Linked DNA regions of Homo sapiens: region 2 is linked to region 1. Evidence: fine-mapped expression QTL. A gene starts in region 1. The other region holds a variant in brackets. All regions are shown on one strand. Distances are between the middles of the regions. Region 1 holds the start of GNG11 (G protein subunit gamma 11). Region 2 holds the start of LOC105375402 (a long non-coding RNA gene).

Region 1 (15,738 bases):
TCAGCAACACACCCCACCACGTGTCTTCATCAAATATGCTCTGAGTATTAAGGGATTCTGGGATTAGTTACTGAATGTCTTATCTATTTTTCCTCAAGAAAAGCTTTTTATCCTCCTATTTAAGTTTACAAAACCCTCTCCATACAGTCCTCCCAACCTCCACCAAGCAATTCCTGTCTCTCTCTCGCACTCTATTTTCCTCCGTAGCACCGTCACCATCTGGCATACTACAATTTATTTGTTTATTTAATTGTGGTTTGCCTCTAGAAGTTTTCCACCTGCAAATTAGTATTTATTTAGTGAAGTGTTCAGTATGGCCCCTTTCCTCCGATTAAAATAAATACAAAGTAAATATTTGCTATGACATTTAGTTTACCATTGGAGACAGATTCTGAAGCCCAGCAATGTGAAGTTAAAACCCCGACTCTTCCACCTTGTCATTGAGAACTTTGGACAAATGACCAAATGACTTCAACTCTTTGAACATTTTTTTTTTTTTTTGTATAAAACTAGTGATTAGGATAGATTATCTGAATACTTGTAATCCCTTAGATCACAAATGGGTATATAAAAGGAAGCCTAATAAATGTCCTCTATTATTATACTTCCCGTGGACATTTTCCCACCATCTGGAATTTGGTCATACTGATCCCTCCACCTGAAATCTCCCTCCACTCCACCCCACCCCATTTTCAGCCTTTTGAAATCCTACTCTTCTATGAGACTTTCTCTCCCAATCTACCTCAAGAGTATTTTGTGTATCTCTTAAGTCATTTAACATTACTTTACTTTCTCTTATTATAATTTCTATGGTTGTCTTAATTTCAGTGCTGTATTGGAAATTTCCCAAGCCAGAAGATCTGTTCATCTTTGAAACTGTCATATCAACTAACAAATTGTCTGGACAATGAAATTGACTTTAAAAGCAGGCAAGAATAGTGCTTATAAAATGTTTATATTGGATAATTCAGAATTCTTATTGACTTAATTCATGATTAAATCACCAGTAGGGGACAATTCCTGTTGCTTAAAACACAGATTGTCAGCAGGTTTTGAGTAAGAGAGAAATCACAGGAAGGAAGTATAGAGAAAGATGGTCCAGGAAGAAGGAAATGAAATCATGACTGTCCCACAGGCTACAGAGCTATAACTGTCAGTGACTTTGGTTTGTTCAGAATTTGTTATTTCAGGACTGGGATAACTAGGTTAAAGAAAATGAAGTAAGACTACAAGGCAACAAAAACCACTCCCACACAACCTTAACATGTGACTCTTTAACAAAATTTTCTGGTGTCATTAATGAGAATGAGTTATTATAGATACTACAATATATCATTTGAGCTACTTGGACTTTAAACATATTTTGCACACATAGATGAGTGTAAGCTTTAGTAAGAAAAAGAAAAAAGAAAAGAAAACACCTCACTGTTGTTTTAATTTGTACTGGTTTTATTTTAGCCAAATTTTAAAACCAAGCTAATATCAATCTTCCTAAATTACTAAAATATGAGTTAACATGAGGAAAATAGTAAACTGAGTAATGAGAATGATCAATTATGTATGATGGGAGTTAAAGTCTTACAGAAAAAAATGGTGAGGGAAATCTGTTTTTTTATTTTTTATTTTATTTTATTCTTTTGAGACAAGAGTCTCACTCTCTCACGCAGGCTGGAGTGCAGCGGTACGATCTTGACTCACTTGCAACCTCTGCCTCCCTGGTTCAAGTAATTCAGTCCCACCACGCCCGGCTAACTCTTTTTGTATTTTTAGTAAAGAAGAGGTTTTGCCATGTTGGCCAGGCTGGTCTCAAACTCCTAACCTCAAGTGATCCTCCCGCCTCGACCTCCCAAAGTACTGATATTACAGGCCTGAGCCACCACTCCTCACCGGAGAAATCATTCTGATACCATGAATTATAAGTAGTTGCTAAGATACTCAGAGCATCAGACACAGTTCATCTTTTGACTTGGCATTCTCTTCATCTAGAAAAGGAATCTTAGGGTCAGGTGCAGTGGCTCATGCCTGTAATCTCAGCACTTTGGGAGGCCTAAATGGGAGGATCACCTGAGATCAGCAGTTCGAGACCAGCCTGGCCAACATGGTGAACCCTGTCTCTACCAAAACAAAAACAAACTTAAATATACAAAATTAGCTGGGCATGGTGGCGTGTGCCTCTAATTCCAGCTACTCAGGAGGCTGAGGCAGGAGAATCACTTGAACCCAGAAGGTGGAGGATGGAGGTTGCAGTGAGTGGAGATCACGCCATGTATATACTTCTGAGAATTTAGGGATGATGATAAGCCTGGAATTTAATAATTATTCTCTTCCACCTTTACGAGTCACATTTTTGGAATGAGGAAAAAGATTTAATCAGTATGAAATCTGATGACATTCTTGACTTCCGTTGCCAGTTGTGTTCTGATTCCTGGGTCTTGTCTCCTTTGATGTTGGAGGCAGTGTCTACGGGGAATCTTTAGCTGGAGCATGGCCAGCTGTTTTTCCTTTGTCTGGAGATATATCCAGAAGGAGTGGGAAGGGTGCAACTTTCTTCTTTCCTACAAAGTACGTATGCATTGGTGGAAAGCAGAGAGAATCAAACTGAAATTATACGACCTGAAAACTTATTGCAGTAAATAAATTCTTGGCATCTGGAGTATTCTGTTTTAAACCAAATGAGTCATCCGTTTTTCCTTCCCCTTAAGGTATCCAAATGTTGTGAAGAAGAGATTACGTTGAAGAATGATCTGGCAAGGATCCACTGGTAAAGGGCATCCCAGAGGACAAAAATCCCTTCAAAGAGCTCAAAGGAGGCTGTGTGATTTCAAAATACCAAAAAAAAAAGAAAAAAAATTAAACAAATTCTTGGAAATATCTCAAACGTTAACAACAATATGGATTTTTTTCACACATAATGCTACTACTATGCATGTACATGAATTTTTAAATTTATAGATGTAAACTTTTAATAAAAATTGGGGTGTGGTAACCCATCATTCTATGTTTTTCTTAACATAGCTGGCACAGGGTTTAACACATAATTGCCAAAAAAATATTGCTTAAAGTTCTTTAAAAAGAACTATGTTTTATAAATGATTCTATATTATTCTGAGTTGTCAGCATATATTTACTGTTTTATGTTTTTTCACTTCCCTTTCAATACTTATAACTTTCTACCCAGAAATTTTGTGGTTAAATTTCTGTTTTCTTTCCCAAACTTTCTCTTGCTTATGGAATTAGGAAGCTTATTTTTCTGATATGCAGTTCACCTATCTTGTGACTTTTCCCCAGAATGCCAACTGGGTTGAGGGTTCAGTCTGTGGTCACGGAGCACGGTGAATTTAACCAGCAGCAGAATCACGGTTATAAGCATGCACTTAGGAGCCAGACAGTTCTGGCTCTGCCACTTTACTGCCCAACTCACTTTGGATAAGCTACTTAATTCTTTCTAAATTTGTTTCTCCTAGCATAGGATGAAGACAATAATGGTTATATCTTCTGTTTTGTGTAGGGGTTAAGTAATACACTAATGCAACTATAACACTCAGCATATTACCTGGTCCATGGTAAGATACAATAAGTGTTAACTAGTATTATTACTGAGAAAGGATCTAGACAAAATTTCTAAAGTGCTTTAAGAAACATGCTATTTTACCCTATCATCATGAAGACTCAACACCACAGTCTTTTCTTTAACAAGGTGAGCACACATGAGAGAGAAATCTCCATCACCTACATCAGGTCCTTCTGGCATCCTGTTGAGTTTACATGAGTCACATTTCACTACCATTGTGTTAATGACTAAGAGAAAACTTGCCTCTGCTTCTGTAACAAATGACAAGTTGTAATTACCTAAATCAGTAACCACTTTTGTGGTCAGTGTTTTCTTGTTGCTGTCTCACATTTACAGTGCTATTTTGTATACTTCAGTGATCAGAATACTCAGAAATACTAATTGATTGTCACACTTTAAAAAAAAACATTAAAATTATCTATTATTTGGTCTGGAAGGGAGTCTGAAAGTTGTACCAAAGTTTGGCTTCTAGCACAATGCCCTCCCACTCTGATCATCATAAATGCTCAACAAATATCTGTTGACTCTTGTCTAAACTCTTCATTTTGAAATGGAGAAAATAAAGTTTCAGAGAAGTCACCTGACAAATTTCTTCGGTCAAGACTCTGGGCTTCTGGCTGAACAGTCAGCAACACACCCCACCACGTGTCTTCATCAAATGTGCTCTGAGTATTAAGGGATTCTGGGATTAGTTACTGAATGTCTTATCTATTTTTCCTCAAGAAAAGCTTTTTATCCTCCTATTTAAATTTACAAAACCCTCTCCATACAGTCCTCCCAACCTCCACCAAGCGCTTCCTGTCTCTCTCTCTCAGTCTATTTTCCCCCGTAGCACCATCACCACCTGGCATACTACAATTTATTTGTTTATTTAATTGTGGTTTGTCTCTAGAAGTTTTCCACCTGCAAGTTAGTATTTATTTAGTGAAGTGTTCAGTATATCTCCCTTTCTCTGATTAAAATAAATACAAAGTAAGTACATGCTATGGCATTCAGTAACCTGTAGAAGATGGTCCTAACCAACATCTCTAACTTTCAGTTTACCATTGGAGACAAAGTTTGCAGCCCAACAATTCAAAATTAAAACCCTGACTCTTCCACCTTGTCATTGAGAACTTGGACAAATGACGTGAACTTTTTGAATCTGTTTTTTTTTATATATAAAATTAGTGATTAGGCTAGATTATCTGAATACTTATAATCTCTTAGATCAGAAACGGGTACATAGAAAGAAGCCTAACAAATGTCCTCTATTATTATACTTCCCGTGGACATTTTCCCACCACCTGGAATTTGGTCATACTGATCCCTCCACCTGAGATCTCCCTCCACTCCACCCCATTTCAGCCTTTTGAAATCCTACTCTTCTTATGAGACTATCTCTCCCATTCTACCTCAAGAGTATTTTGTGTGTCTCTTAAGTCATTTAACGTTACTTTACTTTTTCTCATTATAATTTCTACGGTTGTTTTAATTTCAGTACTACATTGGAGATTTCCCAAGTCAGAAGCACTGTTCATCTTTGAAAAGTGTCATATCAACTAACAAATTGTCTGGACAATGTAATTGACTTTAAAAGCAGGCAAGAGTGGTGCTTATAAAAGTTTATATTGGATCAAACTTCCTAAATGCCTCAATAATGTGTTTACATGAGGAAAATAGTAAACTAAGTAATGAGAATGATCAGTTATATATGATGGGAGTTAAAGTAATATAGAAACAAAATTGGTAAGAGAAATCATTTATTTTTATTTGTATTTTATTTTATTTTATTTTTTTGAGATGGAGTCTTACTCTCTCGCCCAGGCTGGAGTGCAGTGGTACGATCTTGGCTCACTGCAATCTCTGCCTCCTGGGTTCAAGCAATTTCATGCCACCACACCTGGCTATTTTTTTTTTTTTTTTTTTCAGTAGAGAAGGGATTTCATCATTCTGGCCAGGCTGGTCTCGAACTCTTGACCTCATGTGAGCCTCCTGCCTCAGCCTCCCAAAGTGCTGGGATTACAGGTGAGAGCCACCACTCCCAGCCAGAGAAATCATTTTGATATCCTGAATTATAAGTAGTTGCTAAGATACTCAGAGCATCAGACACAGATCATCCTTTGACTTGGCATTCTCTTCATCTAGAAAAGGAATCTTAGGGCTGGGTGCAGTGGCTCACGCCTGTAATCCCAGCACTTTGGGAGTCCTAGGTGGGAGGATTACCTGAGATCAGGAGTTTGAGACCAGCCTGGCCAACATGGTGAAACCCCGTCTCTACTAAAAAAGAAAAGAAAAAAAGAAAAACAAAATTAGCTGGCTGTGGTGACACACGCCTGTAATCCCAGCTACTCGGGAGGCTGAGGCAGCAGAATCACTTGAACCCGGAAGGCGGAGGTTGCAGTGAGCAGAGATCGCGCCATTGCACTCCAGCCTGGGCAACAAGAGTTAAACTCCTTCCCCTGCCCAAGAAAAAAAAAAAAAAAAGAAAAGGAATCTTAGGTAGGTAGTTACAGGAAACAAATGAGCTCCTGAAAATTGCCTCATGATTGTTTTAACAGATTAAAACAAATATCAAATGAACCAAGAGCGTCTGAAGTGTACTTTCTTTAAAGAAACCATAATTTCAATGGTCAAAACAGTTACTATGCACTTTTTAAATTTATTTATTTATTTATTTATATTTATTTATTTTTTTGTAGAGACCGGGGTCTCGGTATGTTGCCTAGGCTGGTCTCAAACTCCTGAACCTTTGGTCTCAAGTGATCCTCCTGTATCGGCCTCTCAAAGTCACTCTATAAATTTTAGAAGAGCAGACTTTGAAAGGTAACCTAGTTTACTTACACGAAATAAAAAAGCAGAAATAATGTGTTTCTTGCAAAAATCACAAGATAAAATAAGACCAGAATCCTGATCTTTTTTGAGTTCAAGTTAGTATTAGCTCAATTCCAGTTTAACTGCCTTCAATGTTTTATTTTTCTTTATATAGATTTTTAACAACATAACAAATCACAAAAATTGTCAAAACCTTGTTTTTCCTATTTTTGCATACCAAAGTAAAAATTTCATGGTTGTTACTCTTTTATAATTTAAAAGTGAAAATGGTTACTTTTATTTTTATTAACTAATTTCTATAAAACATTTGTGAAACGACAGTGGGCTAATTAATCAAAGTTCATTGCTGGTTGCACCTGTCATTTTTACTAAAGAATGGTTTCTACTCATACTACTTGTAAAATAAATTTTACCGGGGTACTATGTAAAATATAAGTAAAAACCTAACAAAACATTTGGACACAGCTAAACAAATTTTAAAATTTATTTATTCAAAATTTTTGAATATTGCTGATAAACTATTTCTGCAAGTATACATGAGAAATTGCTTAACATGGTTCTTCTCTGGGAGGTAAATTCGGTGTCTAGGCATAGAAGACTACACATCCTTTTGTTTAAAAAAAAATATTCTCATCATTTTACTATTTAAAACCAAACAGGGCCAGGCGCGGTGGCTCACGCCTGTAATCCCAGCACTTTGGGAGGCCGAGGCGGGCGGATCACGAGGTCAGCAGATCGAGACCATCCTGGCTAACACAGCGAAACCCCGTCCCTACTAAAAATACAAAAAAATTAGCTGGGCGTGGTGGTGGGCGCCTGTAGTCCCAGCTACTTGGGAGGCTGAGGCAGGAGAATAACGTGAACCCAGGAGGCGTAGCTTGCAGAGAGCCGAGATCGCGCCACTGCACTCCAGCCTGGGTGACAGAGCAAGACCCCGTCTCAAACAAACAAACAAACAAACAGGAAACCAGCAACAATAAAACCTTTTTCAGAATCCTGTGTGATCATGCAATTTCAACATTTTGCAATTCACTTCAGTTTAATCAATTTACTTAAGATATTAGAATATGAATTATTTAATAACAATAAAAAAGACTAACAAGTATTTTGTTTCTAATACGTCTCATAATACGATGGGAAAAGTTAAAGAACCAATATGGGCTTATAAGTATTTATCCCTCTAAGCAACTAGATGATTTCATGGGAAAGAAACTTCAAAGCCAAAATAATTATATTTTTATGACTTAGAACAAACACACATTAACAAAAAATTAGTCAGGCGTGGTAGCGGGCGCCTGTAGTCCCAGCTCCTCCGGAGGCTCAGGCGGGAGAATGGCGTGAACCCGGGAGGCGGAGCTTGCAGTGAGCGGAGATCGTGCCAGTCACTCCAGCCTGGGCGACAGAGCGAGACTCCGTCTCAAAAAAAAAAAAACAAAAAAACAAAAAAACAAAAAAAAGAACAAAAACACAATAATTTATTTAACCAATTTATTTAACTTAGGTGCTGAACCTATTTAATTTAGGCCACATTCACGTTGATTACTTTCACTAATTTAAGGTATTTTTGACCAACCTTTTAAATTTAAGTAATAGAAAATTTTAAAAATGAATTAGTGCACAAGACAGATATGGACATTTGTCTAGTCTCCCTGCTTATTTACAAGTAAACTTCAGTAGATGCTCTAACTACTCTGAGCTTGGAAAACCCTGGTATTTCAAATATTGAAAGTGAAGCTCTTAAACATTTTCTTTGTGAAAATGATTTATCATATATAGACATACCAACACAATTAGAGACACAACATAGCTTAGCTGATTCACTACTTCCCTGCCTTACTATACATTTTACAAATTAGAAAACCAAAACTAAGAAAAATTAAATGACTTCTTCAGTGATGGCCTGTGGCAGAGCTGCAACTACACGCCAGGAGTATTCATTAAGTGGTTCATTGTTTTTTTCATTCTAATTTATTCATTGAGGTTGAGCGGAGCGTGGTAAGAAACTAGGAACGAACAAAAACTCCTGCTTCCTAAACAGGGAATGGTCATGGGTGTCTTGGGTCAGCTACTCTGAAATATTAAGTTAATATTTCACTTGCCTTTGACTCTGTGAGGCAGGAGGTTATCTCTGGAAAGAAAGAGAAATATCCAACTGCTAGGGAAGGTTTCTTACATTCATGTTTGATTTTTCTTCTACTCTTTTGACCACCATCAACAAGACTTTAGTTACAGTTAAAGGGAAAGTTTTATTGCATGTAAACTTTTTTCACATCGGACACTTTTCCTGGCTTTCCAGAGCAACAGCTAGATAAATAGTGCTTGCCAGAAAGTGGAGAAACTAATACTAAATGAATCCACTGCCTACATCCAGGAAGGTTCAGGAGCCAGGAATTCAAAATCCTTGGTGTCAAGTGTCACCCAAAACTTAGGGTTGGGGAGTGGAGAAAGGCTTTCGGTTAAGAACTCTAAGATTCCTGCTTCTGTCTTCTCTTATATCATCCTTTGATGCACCCCTCTACATAACATTCCCCCGGAAAAATAAAAAAAATACAAACTCTGCTGCTGTTGAGGATGCAGATGATTATTTAATAATAGAAAATGTTCTTGCAACTTGTAAACGATATTCACACCCTGTTGCCCCCTCCTCGCCCAAAATGTATAAACCCATATTAGGCCTCGAACAAGCCGGATGGACACAAATGAGCAGAACACTGGTGGGTATTTCTGGGATTAGGGCTAAGCTTCATTTTCTTTTCAGCCTTTTCTTAAGCGTCCGCATTCTCCACTATGCATTTATTACGTTGGTGCAAAACTAATTGCACCAACCTATATATGTAATTAGAGAAAAGTAATTACTTTTGCAACAACCTATGTATGTAATTAGGGAAAAGCTATATCTAGCATATTTTTAAAACTCTTTGAGAGGTGAAGGGTAGTTATTTCCTGCTGGGTAGTGTACTCCTTTTCCTAGCTTCACAAACAAAACCCGGATGTGACTTGGAAACGGAAAAAAAAAAAGGAGCGGGGGTGCGCGGAGAACACAAAGTAAAACTTCTGCTGTTCCCAGTCCTGCAGCCCCAGCCCAGCCGTCCCCCGCGGGCGTGGCAGGTCCTGAGTCAGGGCCTGTCCGTGGCCAGCATCCCTGCTGGGCGATTGAGCAGCGGGAAGCTGCTTGGACCCAGTCTCAAACTTAACCCTCATCTAGCACCCGGGCAGGCCTCCTGGGTTGCAGGGACTTGAGAAAAGGCAGAGTTCTCAGGTCCTAGGAAGCTGGGGCACGCTGGCGTGACAAGCGTCCCGGAGAAAGCCAAGCCCTCGGGGAGCTGGGGACCGCAGCAGGGCTGCAGTCACATCCTGCGCGGGTGGGCGGCGGGCCAGGCCTTCAGTTGTTTCGGGACGCGCCGAGCTTCGCCGCTCTTCCAGCGGCTCCGCTGCCAGAGCTAGCCCGAGCCCGGTTCTGGGGCGAAAATGCCTGCCCTTCACATCGAAGATTTGCCAGAGAAGGAAAAACTGAAAATGGAAGTTGAGCAGCTTCGCAAAGAAGTGAAGTTGCAGAGACAACAAGTAAGTTGGCTGTTCCGGAATATTTCCTTCTCTGAAATGAAGCAGGGTCCGATTTTTCCTGCTTAGTAACAGTAAAGCAAATAGTTTAGCTTATTTTTCCCCCTTTTTGTAGCTTCTCTTCTCACCACCCTTTGGCAGTGCCTGGGGACTGCCAGCTGATGTGGGGAAATCCTAGGAGGTAGAGGAGGGAGCAAGGATCTGATAAGTAATTTAAGGCCAAATGTCCTAACTTTTAAGATGCCTAGGAAGGGGAAAATAGACAAGAAATCTTGCTTTCCATTAGACAGCTGTTTTTCAAAACTCACTTGTAGGAAAAAAGCGGATAGCTACTTGGTTCTTTGATCTTTTACACTACTAGAAAGGATGATATTTGAAAGAAATTTTCTAAAACCGTATTTTAAAGTCTTACAAGTACATTATTTAATTTTGAATTTCACCAGTGGCCTTCAGTGATATGCAAAGAACAGTCCACCGAAATTTGGGAACAAAATATTAGAATTTCTATATTTATTTGTAAATCTCATCCCTTTATAATTTTCACTTTATGTTTTATTAGTATGCGATTAATACAGTAGTATCTGTACTTATTTATAAATAATTATACATACACTGTGGTGCATATGAAAAATTTTTTTAGTGATCACAATTTTAAAGTTTTAGAGACTATTGATAGAGATTACCATTTCATTGAGAACATATGACCCAGTATTCAATATTCTCCACTGAAACGTCTCGGGAGTTTTATAAGTTTTACTTCAATTTCTTACTGGTCATCAAGACCTTCCTTCAGACACTAATCCCTCTTCCTGTTTTAACTCAATCAGGCATCCTGTAGACTAGGAAAGGTCTTTGAATAGATATTGTTTAAAGATAATTAACCTTTCCTCTTCAGCAAGAAAATTTTGAACTGATCTTATTTATTATGGTTTAGCACTAGAAAAAATTAAGAAAAACAATGGAAATGAAGCGTTATAATATGCTCACTTGCCTTCCTGTTCTAGTTATAATAAATCTGTTAAGGGCAAGAGTCTTCACTGTTGAGTGATGATTAGAAGATGCAGGCATTTTTGTGTTTTACTTTTTACATATTTCTTTTCTCAAATTTAACCTTTCACATCCAAATCCCGGCTCTTCCTAGCTTTTATAATGAGCTGTCCCTTCTATCATGTTAAGGGTTTGTAGCTTTAAAAACACCAACGCGTTTAAAGGGGAAAAAAAGGAAGTTACACTACCCAATCAATAAGCACGCTTCTTGAAACCTTAAGGGACCCATTTTATGGATGGCGAAGTTCCCAGTACAGCAAGTGCTGGCCACTTAGATATGTTCACACAATAAACCTTAGGAGTTACATATTAAACAGAGTTTCATATGCTGAAGTACAGCATTGTCTATGCAAGGTTCTAATATCTTAATATTTGGTATCACTGTGTAGAACTTAGGAAAAAAGACAAGCGTCTTCTACTTACTCAGAGTTTTAAGTTAAGTGATGTGGATGCAACCGACTATGTAAAAATTGACTGTATCATTCATTAGCAGTTTCTCCCTGCTAGCCAGCCTGACCCTTTAGGACACGGCCTGTGGCATCAACTTCCCACCTCCAGAAACCTCAAGTGTATGCCAGAGGGAGAAAAAACTTTGGATATATGTAACCTTAGGAAATACAGAAAGAGGCATCTAAATCTCAACAATAATATTAAGACATTTGATTATACACTTGGAATTATACATTATTATTGCTAGGCAAGCATTGGAATGTTTAGAGATCATTCATCTCCCTCACTTTAAGGATTAAAAAAAACTTGAGTCCCACAAAGGCTAACTAGCTCCACATTTAAGACCACAGAGATAGATAGTGATAGGGCAGGTACTAAAACATTCTTCTTCTCATTCCCAGTCCATTATTCAGTCAATAAATAGTTAACATCTGGGCTACGTGTTCAGTCCTTAACTTAGGCCCAGACAAAACTTGCAAGTTGCATTCTGGCTGTAGTTAAATGTTTATCAAACATGTCCTCTTGATTATGGAAGGAAATGTATCAGAGGAGCAATTACTCACATTTGGAGGTTACAGACCTCTTCTGAAACCTAATGAAAAAACCTTGTAAGAAAAGATTCAATGTAGGGAGCATGTATCTTGCTGAGAAATTAACCTGGGACGACAGACCCTAAATTATGACACGTGCATTATCAACTCTAAAAATTCACTTAAAATGCATGCACTCTGAATGTCAACAAACGAGAGCAAATGTTACCTGAAAGAATTGTATTTGAAAGATTTTATTTTGCCAGATTTTAAGTCACACAACTACATCACCTAGTTTTCAATTTGAGGTCAGAGGCTTCCACACTGATTTGCAGAGGATAATCATTTGGGGTGTGGAAGTAAAATGTTAACATTGCTATTTCTGTTTAGTTTTAAACCTCACCCATTTATAATTTCCAGTTTATGTTTTATAATTTTGCATGATGTATTAACAAAGCAGTGTCTGTACTTATTTGTAGTTAAAAATTATATTCATTTTGGGATACACATGCAAACATGTTTTAGTAGTAACCGTTAAAACAGTTTGAGGTTACTAATTTAGATTACTAATTCAATGGGAACATTTGCCCAGTTTTCATAGGTCTCCATTTAAATTTGCTGGTGCGGCCTGGCGCGGTGTCCCACGCCTGTAATCCCAGCACTTTGGGAGGCCAAGGCGGGCGGATCACGAGGTCAGGAGATCAAGACCATGCTGGCTAACGTGGTGAAACCCCGTCTCTACTAAAAATACAAAAAATTAGCCAGGCGTGGTGGTGGGCGCCTGTAGTCCCAGCTACTTGGGAGGCTGAGGCAGGAGAATGGCTAGAATCCGGGAGGCGGAGCTTGCAGTGAGCCGAGATCCTGCCACTGCACTCCAGCCTGGGCAATAGAGCAAGACTCCATCTCAAAAAGAAATAAATAATTAAATTAAATTAAATTTGCTGGTACTTCTGTAATTTTTACTTTAAATTTCTTACTAGCAATACAGGCCTTCATTAAAACCCTAATTTCTTTTCTTTTGTTTTTATTCTTTTTTTAATTCATTCTTGCAACCTGTCTTTTAAGGATAGATAGACTTTTTGAAGAAACTCTTCTTTTAAGAATAGACTTTTTGAAGACACTATTCAATTTTTTCTCCATCTCAGAAAAAAATTTATTCTCAGATAAGCCTAATAAGTCTCAGATAAGTCTTTTATTATGATCATTGCCCTCATGCAGCAGGAAGAAATTCTGAGGAGCAACACAGAGTGCGATATTTGGACAATTCCAATCTTTCCAGAATCAGGCTTTTTCCAAAGCTTCTATCATTTCGTGAAATTTCAGAACATGGCACACACCCATAAGTGAGAATCGTGGCATTACACACCCCAAAACATTTGGGGATTATCTACTACTGCACCTGCTCACTAGCATGGAAAATTAAAATAAGAGTATATTTCAGTTCCTAAAATATTGTAGACATGGCATAATTGTATTTTAGCAGAGGAAGGAAATCATATGAGACACAATGGAAAAAAACTGCTGGAGATGATTTATTTAATGCAGTGACTTTCAAACATTTTTTAATTTGACCAACGACCAACAGTAAGAAATATATTTTACATAGGTTGCATCATAGGTATAGTAATAGAATAAAAATATTAGAGTGCAGAGCCCAGATTTTATATATGTATTATATATATAATATATACACACACACATGCACATATATATGTAAATGTAAAAAAATGTTTAAAAACTTATTGTATTCAATTATACTTATTTCATTAAGGCGTAGGGACAAAGTTTAAACAACCCTAACCTAATGTATTCTCTTTTTTTTCTATACTTAAGGTGTCTAAATGTTCTGAAGAAATAAAGAACTATATTGAAGAACGTTCTGGAGAGGATCCTCTAGTAAAGGGAATTCCAGAAGACAAGAACCCCTTTAAAGAAAAAGGCAGCTGTGTTATTTCATAAATAACTTGGGAGAAACTGCATCCTAAGTGGAAGAACTAGTTTGTTTTAGTTTTCCCAGATAAAACCAACATGCTTTTTAAGGAAGGAAGAATGAAATTAAAAGGAGACTTTCTTAAGCACCATATAGATAGGGTTATGTATAAAAGCATATGTGCTACTCATCTTTGCTCACTATGCAGTCTTTTTTAAGAGAGCAGAGAGTATCAGATGTACAATTATGGAAATAAGAACATTACTTGAGCATGACACTTCTTTCAGTATATTGCTTGATGCTTCAAATAAAGTTTTGTCTTGGGAAGATGAGTGTTGGTGATTTAAGAAGACACTTTTCATGCATTAACTTTTATATTTCTCCCCGTAATCTTTTGGGTGTGGAGTATGATTGGGTTTGGAATATGATTCAGAAGGTTAGGTGGTTCGACAGATCACATCTCCAAACCCTGCGTCAATGGTTTAGAGTGCTGAGTTCTGACCTCTGGAACGTGTTTGATCTAACCTTAACTATTAAGAAACTGAGCAGGTAGAATTCCTATAACATTGACAGAAGTCAGATTATCTGAGTCAGGAACAAGGCCAAGCCACATCTATGTTAGTACTTCCCTAGTTTATCATCATTTAGATCTTCTTAATAGTGTTCCTGTAGTAGTAGCCTTGAAGAAAATACTGAGTTGGGGTTCAGGAAGAGTGCCCTGCCTCTCTGCCGTGTAGTGGCCAGGCCAGCCCTGGCTTTGAGAGCCAGTACTTATTCCTGCACAGAGCTACATCTCCCATGTGCTCTCCAGGTCTTGGGCATGGCACTACTCCAGTTCTGTGGCATTGGTGCAGACACTTGGACCTCTGCACTCATGCTTGCCAGCATTTTCCAGCAGGCCTGGGCCAAACATGCCTTTTTTTCTTCTCCTCCAAAGGAACCAGTGAATCTTTGCCCACTTTAAAGATTAGTTGGTCTTTTTCTTACTGATTTGTAGGAATTCTTCATATATTCTGGCCATTTATTCGTGTTTGGTGATATGTGTTGCGAATACCTTCTCCCAGTCTGTGGCTTACCTTTTCACAGTGACCTTCCCTTCAGTGGTTTTATCCTGCAGGGCAACACGTCAGAGTATAACTCCTGCTCAAGTTCATAACAAAGGTACCTGAAGCCCAAACCTCACAAAAAGGGACCTTTCTTTCTCACCTTGAGCATTCTCCCGCTTCTTCTCCGTCTTTTGGGTCAAAATTGCTCCAAGTTTGAGCCAAAAGAAAAACGTGGAAAAACCCTTGCTGGTTAGCTCTAGCTCAAATGGACTTAGTCATTAACTTGACCTGCAATTTTCAATGTGGCACCAGAAGCCAATGTTTCTCCTTGACTAGCTCTTTTCTCCCACTTACACATGTAGGTATACCTTACTATCAAGCGAGAGAGGCGCCTGTAACCTGTAGCAGCTTTCTAAAGTATATCAGCATCCTCGTTCTGAAATTCCTTTCCTTTCCCTCTCTGGGAAAGAACAGAATACCCCAGGCTTTTGAAAAATAGTTTACACAGACCAAAAGCAGAAACTATTTCCTTCAGTTTCCTGACACTGTCCAAGTGATGACATCAATTGGCATTACTGAGAGCCCAGGGATAATTTTAGCCCAAAACTACTACTCCTAGGAAGGAGTAGTATGATCTACTACTCTTAGGAAGGATTTAGGAATAGTAAAGGTGTATTTCTTCCAAACAGCATAGAACTATTAGTACTATTAGTCATTTAACATTTAACATGGCATGGGATTTTAGAGCTTTGGTGCCTGTAAAGTTTTACTTCTATTAGCTGTTTCATT
Region 2 (15,738 bases), 22 kb after region 1:
TTCTGTCTGAACGTGGACTTTAGAGAGACTCCTATTGATATTTTTTTGGATGCATGCCTTTATTGGAAGATCCTACTCCCCTTGAAACAATACATTTCTCTTAATAAGACTGAACTCTTTCTCTGTAATCCTGATCAATATTTCTCAGGCTTCTGCTTCCTTTTACTGTGCTGAGAGTTTTTCACATAATTCCTCATATTTTGCTATAGTGAAAGGTACAGTTTATCTAAAAAAGGAGTTTGCTAATACTTTTTGATTAATAAGTAACATAGTCACAAGTTTGAGGACACAAATCATGAGCTTAAAGCATTACATAGCCTTGGTGCATCCATTGACTTGGTAGCTGACCCTGGAAATATGGGATTCTTTTCACCCTTTTAGAAAGACATTTTCCAAAACATACCTCTCTTTGAAGAATTTAGTTGAGTGTCTGGAATCTAAAATTTATAACATTATCATGCATTTGTATAAACTAAAAAATAGATAAAAGGTTATGCATTTGTCATCTACTGGAAGGGAGGTAAGGTAATATTATAAATGCATTTTGCTGAAGTTATAAATCATAATGGTGTTACTAGCTCAGGGGCTGCCAAACTTTTTCTGTAAAGAGCCAGATAGCAAACATTTTAGCCTTTGCAGGACTACCATCTCTGTGACAACTACTTTAATATAAAAGCAGCCACAGGCAATGAAATACATAAACCAATGGGTGTGGTTGTGTTCCAAAAAAACCATTTTTTATAAAAACAAGCAGCAGGCTGAATTTGGCCCACAGCCATAGTCTGCTGACTCCTTCGCTAGATCAGTGTTTTTCAAACTACATATTAGAACCCATTATTAGTGGTCAGTTTTGTGAAATGTAACAAATATTTTGAGTAAGATAAAATCAAATGAAGTAAAATATCAGCATATATTCCATCGAATAAAAGGACATATCATATGAAATATATGTATGTGTTTGAGTCAATATTCAATTTTTTTTTGTAGGCTCCAGTCATGGAAGTTTGAAGGCTGCTGGTCAAGAGCAATGAAACTGAGTCCAGCTTTGGATAGTGTGTAGTAATGAATTAACCTTGCCCAAAGAGAGATCCGGCCTTTGCCCTTGGCCACTGGGGAGTAACCTCTAAGCCCTTTGAAAGTTCTGCGTGACAAGAATGCCTTTGTTTACCTGGGGCTTTGGGCCATGCAGAAAGTCTATCATGCAGTTCCAGTTTGATTTCTAGGGCCATGTAGTATCAGCTTCATCTGAGAGACTGGAGGCTGAGACCAGTTGACCAGGGAGCCCCAGTAAAGACTCTGGATACCAAGGCTCAGGTGAGCTTCCTTGGTTGGCCATAGTTCATGTACATTGTCACACAGTGTTTTCAAAAGTGTAGTGCTTTCCGTGACTCCACTGAAAGAGGATAACTGGAACCTCCATGTTCAGAACTTTCCTGGACTCCACTCCATGCATCTCTTCCCTTGGCTGATTTTGATCTGTATTGTTTGGCTTTAACGAACTACCACTGTGATTATAAAAGCCTTCAGTGAGTTATGTGAGTCCTAGTGAATTAGTGACTCTAAGGATGGTCTTGGGGAATGCTGAACCTGAATGGGTATCAAAAGTGAAGTCAGTCTCATGGACTGTGTTCTGTTTACCTTCTAAGATAGGTGAGGAAACCATAAGTCAGATGCTTTCATAAAGGTTGTGGAGCAAATTAGCAGCAAACCCACAATGAGAATATTAGGTTTGTAGTTTCCATATTTAGAGGCTTCTTTCTTCTCCTGTGCATCTTAATGCTGCTTGTCAACATTTGTGGAGTGTATCTGACTTTGTGTTGAAGGCTTTGTACACATTATCTCATTTTATCCTCACAAAGACCTTATAAAATATGTACTAGGATTAGTGACAAAACTGAGGCTTGAAGAGCTTAGGTAATTTTCCCTGGGTCATACAGGTTTTCAATGATGGAATACGGATTCAAACCCAGGGAATCTGATTCAACTTGAGTTACTTTTTTCACTGCTTGATATTGTTTCTTTTGGGTGTTGTACATTTCCTTCTTTAAAGAAGCTGAATTTCTTTCATTTGAAACCACCAGGTTACCTGATATATGTGTAAATAACAAATAATTGGCCGGGCACGGTGGCTCACGCCTGTAATCCCAGCACTTTGGGAGGACGAGACGGGCGGATCACGAGGTCAGGAGATTGAGACCATCCTGGCTAACACGGTGAAACCCAGTCTCTACTAAAAATACAAAAAATTAGCCGGGCGAGGTGGCGGGCGCCTGTAGTCCCAGCTACTCGGGAGGCTGAGGCAGGAGAATGGCGTGAACCCCAGGGGGTGGAGCCTGCAGTGAGCCAAGATCGCGCCACTGCACTCCAGCCTGGGTGACAGAGCGAGACTCGGTCTCAAAAAAAAAAAAAAAAAAAAAAAAGAAACAACAACAACAAAAAAACAAACAAAAAACAAATAATTGGATCACATATATAATATATATCTTTTGTATTCCCCTCAGTACACAACATAATTAACACTTAATGAAGAGAGGTTGAAACAATGAATAAGATATAGGGTAAAGGGTTAAAGTCCCACATACCTTCTTGGTCTTCCACATTGCTGTTGACACCTTGGTTTTCTTCCTCTCCATCTTTGCCTCCATTATCCTCCTCTTCTTCTTTCTCTTCTTTCTTCTCTATTCTCTCTCCTCCTTTCTCTCACTTCTTCTCATTCTTATCCTTTATATCCATCATCATCATGATTATTATTGCCAAAAACTGATTAGGCTAATTTCAACCTCCTATATTTCCTAAAAGCTAAGTTAAAACAAAATTTCCGCTGAATGAGGTATTTGGTTGGGCTTTGCTTAAACAGATATTTGCTATAATGCTGTCTCTGAGTGTTTTACTGCTATTTACAATACAATGCAACCCAACATTTTCTCTTTTCTTTCCTTTACATATTAGAATAAGGATACCTAGATGATGTCTGGAATTAGAAAGAAATGGAAAAATAGGCAGAGTATAATTTCTATTAGTATTATTTATAATGGACTTAAACCTGAAGTCAAAGAACTGTTCTGACTACATAATTTACAGTTCAGGAAAAAGTTTTTACAGGAAAACTCCCTTTTGATGAAACAGTTTTCTTATTTTTTCAATCTTGATTACAGAATACAGATAAGGACATTCACCCATTTGGTCACCAGTGGGAAGAAAAACAATGCTTTCCTGCTCCTCTTTTGTTTAATATTCTAGTAAAAGCTGGATACTTGGGAATGCATAAACCAAGTAATAGGTAAGCATAACACTGATAGTGACTTCTATTTGTATGGTCTTTTGGATGTTTTCTATGCACAGTCACATTATTTCATTTGAACCTGAGAAGTAGGAAGAAGTACATATTATACCCCATGACTTATTTTCATCCTGGAAATGAGCAAACTAAGCCCCAGGGTTAAGGGACTTGCCATGGGCATGCATCTAACCAGGACTTCTAACTCCAAATACAGCGCTCTTCTCACCACACCCTGTTTTTACTCTGTTTAAATAAATATTCTCAGTTGGCTTGCTATTTTCTCAAATACACATTTTCCCTGAACCAAGAGTTCTTAACCTGTAATATACATGGATCTACATGAATGAGTTTCAGGAGTCAGATAACCTTCTAAAATAGAATTTTAAATGTTGTGTGTATGTGCTGCTCTCTCCTGTGCTCCTCCTTGTGACAATCTACTTTTTTCATCTCAGAAGTGTCAACAAGACAAACATGGTTAGGATCTCTTACCTTAGCAGGGAAAGTGCTTATATCCTTTTCCCATATGAAAGGGATAACTTTGGGACTTTAGTTTAGACCTTGTTGCTGTTTCACTGTGTTGGAGACTTGCAGAAGATTAGGAATACCCTCCACTGTGCCTTGTCTAGCTTCCACTCCACAGTCATCAAACTGACTCATCTTCTCAATCATTTCCTCCCATTAGCTTTCCCTGTCATCACAATCACTCAAAGAAGCTGCTCCTTCTGCCACCAAAAAAAATGTTAATGGATAGAAGGGCTCCCCACTGCCATATTCTGATCACAACTTGTTGCCTTTACTTATTGACACTTGAACTCTATGCCTTCCTCTCTCTTTGGTTGCAGTCACCTGCTCAACTGACTTTTTCCTTAGTGACATCAACGTATGGCTCAGAGACCTCAACTCCACTCTTCCTCCTTGTCTCCTGTCAACTTCAAGTTCTAAGAGTATGACTCTTCTAACACTAAACCTTAGAATGTATCAATCTCCCTAACTTGAGTGATTACAATACTAATATTATACTTTCTGCTGTTCTATTATACTGTGCTACTTTAAAGTATTTTAGTATAGTTGGTAATATCTACCAATTTTGGATATTAATGATCTCTATTTTGCAGCTAGAGAGTATTAAAATTTTGAAGAAAATGACTACACTTTTTAATGCAACACTAACCTGTGGTGTTAGAAGTAAAGCTCGAGTCTGCTCTTTGGAGTGTAGTATGAAAGAGAACATGAAAGGGGCTTCTGGGTTGCTGGTCATATTTTGGTATTGAATGGCAGCCCTCGTGACAGAGTTGTATTCACTTTGTGAAAATTTCTTGCACTGTTTACGTTTAGTTTATGTGCACTTCCACTATCACTTTGAAAGTGTTCTGACTTCATTTCTTCCCTGTTAAATATCTAAAAGTATTTCTATTTAAAATCTGATTTCCCTGGTTAATAGCGAGCCAAGCAACTTTTCTTATGATTTACTCATTTGTAGTTCCCCAAAGCTAGTTTGGCCCACACTTCCTGAGGTTCATGATAGGATTTTCTTTAGAATTGTTGGGGGAGGGAATCCGGAGAATAGGGGACCGTGTGGCAGGGGGATTCCTGAGTACAAGCAAGTAATGAAGGGTGAGAGGTCGTCGCCTTGTCTAACCCCCATACCGTCTCTGTAGGCTGATTAATGATGCGCTTCACTCTCATTTCTTCTTATTCAAAGTCTGATAAATTGTCAGGGGCTTGACCCCTGGTGCTCTTAAATGATTTATTTAAACCAGGACTTATTTTTATCAATCATCTGAGCCAGAGGTCCAAGGCACCTCAGGTCTGTACCCTGACCCTCTTTCAGGGGAAGCAGCACCTTGGGCAGAATGTAGAATATGAAGACAACCACCTTTTGCTCTGCGATAAATCGTTAACTGAAATATCAAATATCAGTACTGTCTTTGCCCTTCAGTGTTGGAGTTGCTGCTGAGTTTCCCTTACCTTTCCTTCCTCTTCATCTCTGCCAGCACTGGCTTATCTTAAAATCCTCCCACCTTCAATATCTCAAACATGTGAGTTTTCCAGGCCTCCATCTCTCCCTTTCCCTTACATAAATCCTGGTATGTGTCCACATCCTACTCTAGTCTCTCTGTTTCTCCTGATTTTCCCCCACCTTCTGATTTTCTTTGCCTCGACCAGCCTGCCCCAGGTGATCAGCCATTTTCACCTCATACCACATCACTTCAGTGTCCGGTTCTTTATGATTCCCGGGGCTTACTTTCTCAAGGTCACCTCTAGTTCTGAATTCCACCCCCAGTTCCTCCCTGTAGCCCACTCACCTCTCACCTCTTGCTGCTGTTCTTTTCTGAGTCTTTCCTTCATTTCCCCAAAACTTTGCTCCCAAGGCATTTCTGTCTGTAGAAAATATTGTTCATGACTTGGGTGAAAGGGAGTTTACGAGATAAGAGAAAACAAGGTCAAATTGAGCACCAGACATCTCTGTACATGGAGGTCTTTCAGTTCTTCAAGTTGTGCTGTCCAGTCCTTCTCCAACATTTCTTTCTTTCTTCCCTTTATTTTCCATTCTAGTTCACCTCCAAATTTTAGTTAATTTCTAATGGAAATCAGTCAATTTAACTATTGTTTTGCTTCTCTTCTTTCAGTGACTCAACTTTCATTTCCTCTGTTTCACCAAAACTGTTTTTAAGGTATTTTTTAAAAGACAGCTCTTTTCCTAATATAAACTCATATGCAATTTTTCTCTCTTTGGTTGTAGTTGTAAAGCATCCACCTCTTTTTTCTTTTTTTAAAAAAAAATTTCTGTCAAGCCTGCATGTCTATTTTCTTAAGAAGTAGGGGTAGAGCAAAGTACTTAGAAATCCAAAGCTGATATATTCATCTGTAAATAAGTCTCTGCCTCACCATCTTAGTGAGTTCATTTTCCTTTTGCTTTCAAACTTCACCTCCAACTCCTCTCTTCCTTTTCTGTCTTTACCTGTTTTTGTTTGGAAACTGCCATCGCCCTCAGCCTTCATCTTGGCTTGCTTGCAGAGCTTCCCCTTGGATGACCTCTCTCCCTCAACAGCAAATCCCTGACACCAACTCATTTCTGATTATTGGCCTTTGTTCCCAGACTTTCTTTGGGGTAACTGTATTTCACCCATGGCATGCTCTTGCTGCATGCTCTTGCTGGCCCAGCAGCCTTTGCTAAATCTATCATCTTCAGCTTCCCTTCCTCCTAATCAGCTCACAGCTAAGAGATTAGGGTTCCATTTGAACCAGCTCCTCCATGGAGGCTGCTGTGTCCTCCCTCCTCTTCTCTCCATGCCTCCTCCACCTTCTTTCCCTTCTTCACTCTGTTGGTCAAAACATATTGAATGTAGACCAGCTGCCTTTCAGTACTAAAGAGACCAGGATGAATAAGTCCATGTCTGCTATCTTGGTGCTCATAGTCTAATGGGAAAGAAAATTGACTAGGTAATCGCACAGGAGTCTTTAGTGGTTCCCAGTAACAGTATGATGATATTTTCTTATTTTCTTATTAAATTATTGTTTTCTGTATTATTAGTAGCAAGTATATATTTCCCACTTGAACCTTATCACCCCATTTTTCAAAACAATTTCAGCTTTTATTTTAGGTTCGGGGGTACAGTTGCAGGTCTGTTATCTGAGTATATCACATGATGCTGAGGTTTGGGGAATGAATGATCCCATCATCCAGGTACTGAGCATGGTACCCAATAGTAGTTTTTCAGCCCTTGCCCTCTCCCTCCCTCCCTCTCCCCTCCAATAGTCACCAACATCTATTATTATTACTATCTTTATGTCCATGAGTACCCATTGTTTAGATCCCACTTATAAGGTTTGGTTTTCTGTTCTTACATTGATTAGCTTAGGATACTGGCCTCCAGCTGCATTCATGTTGCTGCAAACGACATGAATTTGTTCTTTTTTATGGCTGCATAGTATTCCATGCTGTACAGGTACCACAATTTCTTTATCCAGTCCACTGTTGATGGGCACCTCGGTTGATTCCATATATTTGCTATTGTAAATAGTACTATGATGAACATGTGAGTGTATGTGTATTTTTGGTAGGACAATTTTTAAAATATATATATACCCAGTAATAAGACTGGGTGAAATGGTAGTTCTGTTTTAAGTTCTTTGAGCAATTTCCAAGCTATTTTCCACAGTGGCTGAGCTAATTTACATTCCCTCCAACAGTGTATAAGCTTTCCTTTTTCTCCACAGCCTGCTCAGCATCTGTTGTTTTTTGACTTTTTAGCAGCAGCCATTATGACTGGTGTGAGATGGTGTTAATATCTCATTGTGGTTTT[A/G]ACTTGCATTTCTCTGGTGATTAGTAATGTTGAACATATTTTTGTATGTTTTTTGACCACTAGTATGTCTTCTTTTGAGAAGTGACTGTTTGTGTCTTTTGCTTACGTTTTAATGGTCACTCCAAATATTTACAAGTTGAAAATGGGACCGGTTGAGCTATCAAATACCAGGAGGGTAGAGAAATGGAACACCTGATCAGTTTACATTTTCTGTTGCTTCTGAACAGTCCAGTCAAAGTTTCTTCATTTTTCAGTAATGTGCTTGTTGAACTGAATCCCATTTATTTCAAGCTTAGGCCCAAATTTGATGGCTCCCTTGTTTGAGTCACACATATGTTCACTAACTATGCACCAAAGCACAAGCCTGAGATAACTGCTGTGCCAGCCACCCAACAATGGATCACAAGTTGCCAGCACATAATGGGTTCTCCAGCACATAATCGATTCTGCCCTATGAGTGCATTTCTCTTTGAGACCTTTGGCATCTTTTCTTGCCTGCCAACTTTGTGTTACATTGGTCCAATCCAACAGATATTTTAGCATCAAATATTAGGGAGCAGGAGTTCATTCCCTCCCATAAGGCTCTGAACTTCTTATGAAAATTGGTTTACTTCCTCCTCTATGATCAGCTTTGGGCAGCAACATGTGATGTGAGCAGGCTTCCTTAGGTCATATCAGTGGATCCTACTGGCAGGCACTCTGAAAGAGAGTGCAGGAGTGAGCCTTTCCGGACTAAAGTAGGCCTATAGGTAATTTACTTTTGTTTCCTCAGGAAGAAAAGAGGTGGCCACTTCGAGTACAAGTCACTCAGTTACATATAAGATAGTGTGGTAAGAAAGTTATAACGATTGACATAAAATTCCATAGCCTCTTGCCAAGAAGGTGACCATCCTTGTCTTATCATGGCGTTGAGTTTCATCTGCACTTGAGGTGTTGGTTAGATGAGAAGAAAACCTGACTAACCTTTGCTGCACACTGGGGTTCTTTTATTTCTCACTTGAATTCTTTACTGTATCATTTACAAACCTTCTCTCTTTTCTTCAAGAGTCCAGCACTATTTCAGCCTGCCATCTTGCTGGCAAATGTCCTACACGTCTACTCAGTGGAAAAGTTTGAAAATATCAGATGTACATTCCCCTAATTTTTCTCCTACCTACATGAGAATGTGTTAATTGTTCATCTTTCTTTCCTGGTCCTTCTCTTTTTCGATGGAGAAACAAGTGTCTCGTTGTTTTCTGTTCTTGTTTTTGGTTTTGTTTCTTTTACTAAGCCTGTGTTTTTGAACTCCGGTGTCTGTGGATCTCCTGGGACCTAAGTTATACCTTCTTGTCTTAGATTTTCTACCTCTTGCCCTCAATTGGTTATGTTTCTTTTTTCTGCCTAAAAACATGATTTGTACAATCTACCTAAATCAATAATAACAACAATTGTAACAACAAAGCAAAAGAAGAAATTTTTCTTTGTTCCTGCTTCCTGTGAGAGCAATACTCTCTATGGTTTTATTCAATTTCAGATCTTTTTATCATCAGGTATTTCATTGATTATATAATTTGCCTGCCTCCATTCCTTACTAATTAATCATACTTAACAATAATATTATTCTTAAATACATGCATTTCTTTCTCATCTTTTAAACGAGTCTCCATTTTTTCAGAAGAGAAAAATTAAATTCTATTTCTTTTGAAATATTACAATCTTATTCTCACTACCAACTTTCTCTCTATGACTTTCCAACTGCCAAGTCCAGTGTATTGAAAGTCTCATTCACTTGTGACCTTCTATATAACTGGAATCTGGTTTCTACTCAAAGCCTTTTCCTCCTTTGACATCAAAACCTCGCCTACCATGCTCCTCTGCTTGCCTCTGCCATTTGGAGCTTTTCCAACTTATTTGATAGCAACACTTTTCAGGCTCTTATACACAGACATACCATGATCCCTGTCTTACACACTTCTTTCTTTATCCTTCTGCATGCAGAAACTCACCACCAATCCAAAATACATTTCCCCTTACAGAAACCCTCAATTGCCTTATTTTGCCTTCTAATTTAAGTACAAACTATTTGGCTTCATGGTTCCACAACACACATTTTGGATCTCCTATGCCAGTATTTTCTACTTTTGTTCATCTGTATATACCTATCCAGAAACAGCTGGTTGATAGCTAAGTAAATCTTAAGCTTCTCTGTCTCCCAGTCACTGTGATACTATTTATTCTGTCTGAAAGTCTACTTGTCTCTCCCCTTCTCGCCACCTGTCAAGGTGACTGAGGCTAGAACGCAGACTGTTCAAGGGCATGACAACGACTTGTGGGTTAAATAGAAACTTGCTTAGTAACTAGCCTTTCTTGATATATTATTCTTGAACAAGTTCATTTTGTTTTTTCTCATCTTTCAAAGAAGTCTCCATTTTTAAGGGAAAAACTGTAAATTCTATTCCATTTAAGGAAATGTCCCATGATATTAGAAAGCAAGTTTATTCCTTTTTGGATTAAGAAATTTAAAATGGTTAATGTATATTTTATTTTTCAGTGAGAAAGTTAAAACTGCACTAGAATGACATTCCTCACTTCTTTCTTTTGTTTTCTATTTAAATTGTACATTTTGCTGTGTGCTAAAGCACTGGACTCTGTATTATAGAGAGACTGTGGGTGGTATGCATTTTGTGACCGTGTTAGTTAAAGCATGATCATACTGTTGACTGGTTTGGCTTAGACAGTAGGAAACATCTGGCAGTTTCCTGATATTTATCAAGACAGAACTGTGCTTCCTTTAAAAACAGTTTCACATGAACAATGCACTACATAATAGCAGAGGAATTTTATAACAACAAGTATAAAAACAAGAATGTGACTATTAAATATAGACATTAATTTTATAATGTTAATCAAAAAGTTAACTCTTTTTGATTATAAAGTTATACTCTAGAAATATATCAATGTTTATATTATAAATCCAGAACAGAGTGTTTGTTCTTGCTGAAAAGAATATCAGAAAATTGATCTGAGATAGTAGAGCGAACTTTGATTTATAATTCTTTGACTGTAATGTTCAAATATATTTACCTAGCCTGGCATAGTGGCATGTGTGCTTGCAGTCCCAGCTACTTGGGAGGCTGAAGGAGGTGGATCACTTTGAGCCCAGGAGTTCGAAGCTGTTGTGAGCTATGATTACACACTGCACTCCAGCCTGGGCAACAGAGCAATACCTTGACTCTAAAGCCAGTCCCAAATGAACTTGGAAGGAATAAGAATAGATCGGATAAGTGAGTGGGGTCTGATTTTTTTCTTTTTGAACCCTGTAGGTTTCAAATCCCAAGTTCCAAGGTCTATATCTTTCAGCTAAGGAACCTTAAAGTAGGGTGGCTTTTTATGACTTTTCCACTTTCATATAAATCTGTGATGGATACCTAAATGTGGCCTTGCTTCTGATCTGTATGTCAGAAAATTGGACTAAATAACTTACAGTTATGGTTCCAGAGTTAGCAAATATATCAACCCTTTATGCTTGGCTCAAAGTAGATATTGCTAATCAGTCACTGAGTGCTCTCTTACCGAGCTAGAACAGCCCTCATAATCTTTTCCAATAGCACTGCAGGTTTACTAATCAATTGGAGTTGACATGACATGTTAAACCTATTTGCTTTCCCAGGTTTAGACTTTCCAAAATATAGCAAATACAATCATTTGGGCAAAACTTATCATTAATCGCTTTCCAAAAGAAATGCTGAAAAACTATTTTGGCAGCCCCTCCTCTCTGCCTAATACATGGCTATTTTAGGAGACATATAACTGCATGTGATCTGATTCCTCCCTTATCTTTCTTTTCCAGTAGTGTCTGCAAAGTTTATCTCATCCAGTTTGAATAGACTTCTGAGCACATCGCTCTCAGGTCTTCACAGCTAATCTATTTTCAACCACGATATAACTTCCTATATCCAAGACAAGGTGTCCTTCCTTTTTAAAATAACTTATCTTTCCCAGTTCCTTTAATTCCTTTAGTTTCTTCCGTTTTCCTAAATGTTCATCACTTAGTCACTTCTTTACCTTATTATGTCTCTTCTCTCCAATAATTGCCCCTCCTCACTAAAAATATGCTGTCAGTTTTTCCTTGGCTTTAACCAAGCATGCAAAGCCACAGACTTTTCACCAATTCTACTCCCTACTTAAACTAGCACATTATAACATTTTTCCCCCTTTAACCACAATGTCTGTTAAAACACCAGGCTGTTTCATCAATCTCTTCTTAATTCCTTGCAAGGATTTTTAAACTCTTGGAATTTGCCAAATGCTTTCTTTTCCTTTTAGCCTCTCAGTAGCATTCTTGACCTGCTCCGTTTCTCTGGCTTATCTAGCCCTGCACAAAATGAATTTCTTCTTTGCTTGTTCTTTTTGTGTTTCCTTTGTTAACATTTTATATAATTCCTAAGGCCTTATTCTTGACTTTCTTCTCTTCCCCTTCTCTACGTCCTTCTCTTTGGAAAACTCAACTTTGAAATTTTCAGCTATCATCTCTTTACAGCTTTCAAATTAATGTGAGTACTCCAGGCTTCACTCTTAGAGGTGAGTTTCACATTTTCAACTCCCCTTCTGAACATAAACAGTGACTTTCTTTTTCCAATTACTTTTAACCTTAAGGAGACTTTTTAACCTGTGTTTTCATCTGTTGCATATCAGGCATGCCAAATTTAGTTGCTGTCCTTCAGTGTGTTTTCTGGGCCCCATTCTTCCTCCCGGTTCCATTGTCTTCTCGATTAAAGCTTTTATCACCCCAAAACAGAAAGCTTAAAATAGTTACATTGCAGCTTCATATTCCTGTCTCTATAGTCTTTTTTCTGAAAGCCACCTTGCAAAAGATCTTTAGGTTTGCCATCTTAAACCACTGTTTTAAAACCATATGTCTCTTGTCGAAAACCATCATGGGATTGCTATTATCTACTGAATGAGAACTGGGCTCCTTATTCTGACAGCCAAATTCTCCATAAGCCAGGCTTAACCTACCTTTAAAGCTTGTGCTCATGTCAAGCACACTACTTGCTGATTCCAAAATTTGCCTTGATTTTTTTTTTATGAGTGTGCACTTTTGTTTTGCCACTTTAGATTTCTGGAATTAATTCTTCTACTTCTATATTCCATCTTTTAAAATTCTACTCAATCTTTAACAGCCAACTCAAACAACTTCAGCATTAGCCTTGAGGTAGAGGTGTGACCAGGTCCATCCAGGTGGGGCACTGACCAAGAAAGAAAAAGAAGGAGGCAGTCGAGGGACATCTCTGAAGGGGCATAAGATTTATGTCCAACAAAGACATGGATGCTAGCTAATACCATGGGATTGCTTAAGGTGAGTTGTAAAAGTGAGCAGAAGAGAGACTTGACATGGCCTGAAGGCAGGCTAATAGTTATCTTGGGAGTAGGAAGAAGAAACATGCAAAAGACACCAGCAAGTTGTGGTCAAATACAGGAGAAAAGCCAGGAAAATGTGATATGATACAAGTCAAAAGAAGAAAGTTTTTCAAGAGGAATGTAGTATTTGATATTTTCCAATGTTCCTAAGAAATCAAAAGAGATGAAAATCAAAAACAAAAACAAGTGGGTGGTGGGGAATAGAATTTAGTGACATGGGCCACTGGGAACATTGATGAGAGCTCTTTTGGTGGAGTGGTAAAGGGTCAAGCCAGATTAGTGTTGGCTAGTGATCAAGAGATGAAGAAGTGGAGACAGCAAAAATGTATAATATTTCTGGAGAGCTTGTTGTGGCTGAAAGAGAATGAGGAACGAATCTTCTTTCTTGGGAGTGGCTGGAGGTAGCTTAAAAGCCATTAAAAATATTCAGGTTTAATGGGAAAGTTAGAAGATAATGCAAAGAGAAAAAACATTTGAGTAAAGTTCCTAAGATAGGGGGAGAGGATAAGCTCAAAAGTCAGGAGATTTAGTGTGAGCAAGGAGCAGGCCACCTCCTGTCTTGCAAAAAGACAAAGAGTAGACATGGGTGAGGAGAAAAGACATGTGTGTTTGGTGGCTTAGAGCATGTGATTTAGAGATTGAAGAAATGTCCAATTGATGGCATCTATTTTCCCTTTGAGATAGTAAGTGACATCAACCTCTGACACCAAGGAAGAAGTGGGAAGTAGTAGGGATGGGAGTTTCAGGAGAATGTAAACGGTTTGAAACAGTCATTGCAGAGTAATGTCATTGCAAAGTAATTTGAAAAAAAAATTATTGGAATGCCAGAAAAGAATGTAAATGAAGAAAGACTCAATATGTGGGTTTATTAAGGACTGGTTTGTTAAGACCAGTGTGATCAAAATATGGGACATAAGTACATTTAGAATGTGGCCAAGAATGTTTTTTGGGGATTTTTTGTTTTTGTTTTTGTTTCTGTTCAGGGATAGAGTCTTACTCTGTTGCTCAGGTTGGAGTACAGTGACAAGATCATGGCACACTGCAGCATTGACCTACCAAGCTCAAGCAATCCTTCTGCCTCAGCTTCTCAAACATCTGGGACTACAGTTGTCCACCACCATGCCCAGCTAATTTTTTTGAGTTTTTGCAAAGATAGGGGTCTCACTGTGTTGCCTAGGCTGATCTTGAACTCCTGGGCTCAAGCAGTCCTCTTGCCTCCCAAAGTTCTGGGATTACAAGCATGAGCCACCACACCTGTCCTCAAGATTGTTATTGGAATGGTGGAATATATATTGTGAAGAGGAAAATGAAGGAAGAAAAGGCCAGTAGGTTTAACAAAAAAAGAAAGAAAGAGAGAAAAAGGAAGAAGGAAGGAAGGAAGGAAGGAAGGAAGGAAGGAAGGGAGGGAGGGAGGGAGGGAGGGAGGAAGGGAGGGAGGGACGGAGGGAGGGAGATAAGGAGGGAGGGAGGGAGGGAAAAAGGGAGAGAGGGAGAAAGGGAGGGGTGTAATTGGATTGGCAGTCCTGATGAGATTCAAGAAGGGTCTCTGATGCCTTACCTGATTACTCCCATCTGGAAGCTGTTTTTTATCTAGCTTCCCCAATCACGGTTGTTTGAACTGCTTATTATTGAGATGTTATCCACCATATACTGCCCTATTTCAATATGGTATGCTAGCTCACTTATGTGGGCTGGATGTGTAGTACAAGTGTCTACACACTTAAACTTACTCATGATAGGTAATCAATAAATATTTGTTGAATGAATGAATAAGAGAAGGGAAGAAGAACAGAAAGGATGAAAGTAAGAACAATATACTTTAGCTTAGTCTTTTGTTTACAGATTGTTGTCAACACATATCTTACTGATTATATTTCCTTTTCTTGCAACTTTTAAGAATGAGTATATGGTATTTTAGTCATTTAGTGATCAAAAGATTGATCAAAAGATTAGATTAGGTTACTCAAACCAACAAATGTTTTATTTGACCATTAAACATAAATTTGTGCTCTCTTTTTATTCACAACATGAGGCAGAAAATTGTGAAAGTTTCTAGTAATTACAATTCAATCCAGAGAGCCAGTCTGGGAGTGAGTCACCCCCTTGTCTGGACAGTAAGTGTCCATTATTTACGTCAATATGCTCTGTGGCTGTGCCTGCAGCTAACCCTGAATGATAGCAAATGTCTGCTTTTCCAATTCTTTTTCAATTTCCTTCTTTAAGAAGAAAACAATTGAATGTAACAGGATAGAACTACACTGAACATCACTATTAAGATAATGGCTTACTGAGTTTGTTGTTCATGACATGAATGCTGTTCCTGTTACACTAATAATTAGCCATCTGCTAAAATGTGAATTTTTCCATTTTGAGCTATGAATCTGTAAAGAATATGAGCACATTGATTTACTTCCTTTGAATTTTTTTATTACAATTGTATTGATATCTTTCAGTCCAGTTTTCCTTCCTTAACTTAAACGTATCCCTTTCCTCTTTAAGGATATTTCATGCAGCGTCAAGATACATACAAAGTAAAAAGCTTAAAATTTTTTTAAAAAACTGTCCATTAGATTGTGAAGTGCTATTTTAGTGACAATACTAAATCGATATTTGTTGTGTTATGGCTGAATTGAGTGAATTTTTCACTTGCCTAGTTAATTTTCTGTATGTGAAAAGAGTAGATCTCTTTTACTGAATACATCAAAGTTTACATGCATGATGCCTAATGGCCTAATTGAGGTAAACAACATT

The links. PIP is the estimated chance that this variant, and not a neighbour inherited with it, causes the effect.
Region 2: its variant is fine-mapped to the expression of GNG11 in whole blood (TOPMed, PIP above 0.99).

What each region holds. Positions count from the first base shown.
Region 1 is chr7:93,912,285-93,928,022 of GRCh38, forward strand. It overlaps GNG11 (G protein subunit gamma 11), which reads left to right and starts at 9,451. Exons shown (of 2, transcript NM_004126.4): 1 at 9,451-9,949; 2 at 13,807-15,738. The coding sequence starts at 9,854. The coding sequence ends at 13,932. LOC105375402 (a long non-coding RNA gene) reads right to left here. Exons shown (of 3, transcript XR_927751.3): 2 at 4,152-4,236; 3 at 1,658-2,811. RefSeq lists enhancers at 2,055-3,254, 9,053-9,688.
Region 2 is chr7:93,934,554-93,950,291 of GRCh38, forward strand. LOC105375402 (a long non-coding RNA gene) reads right to left here and starts at 2,961. Exons shown (of 3, transcript XR_927751.3): 1 at 2,583-2,961. The variant A/G (reference allele first, on the strand shown) is at 7,588.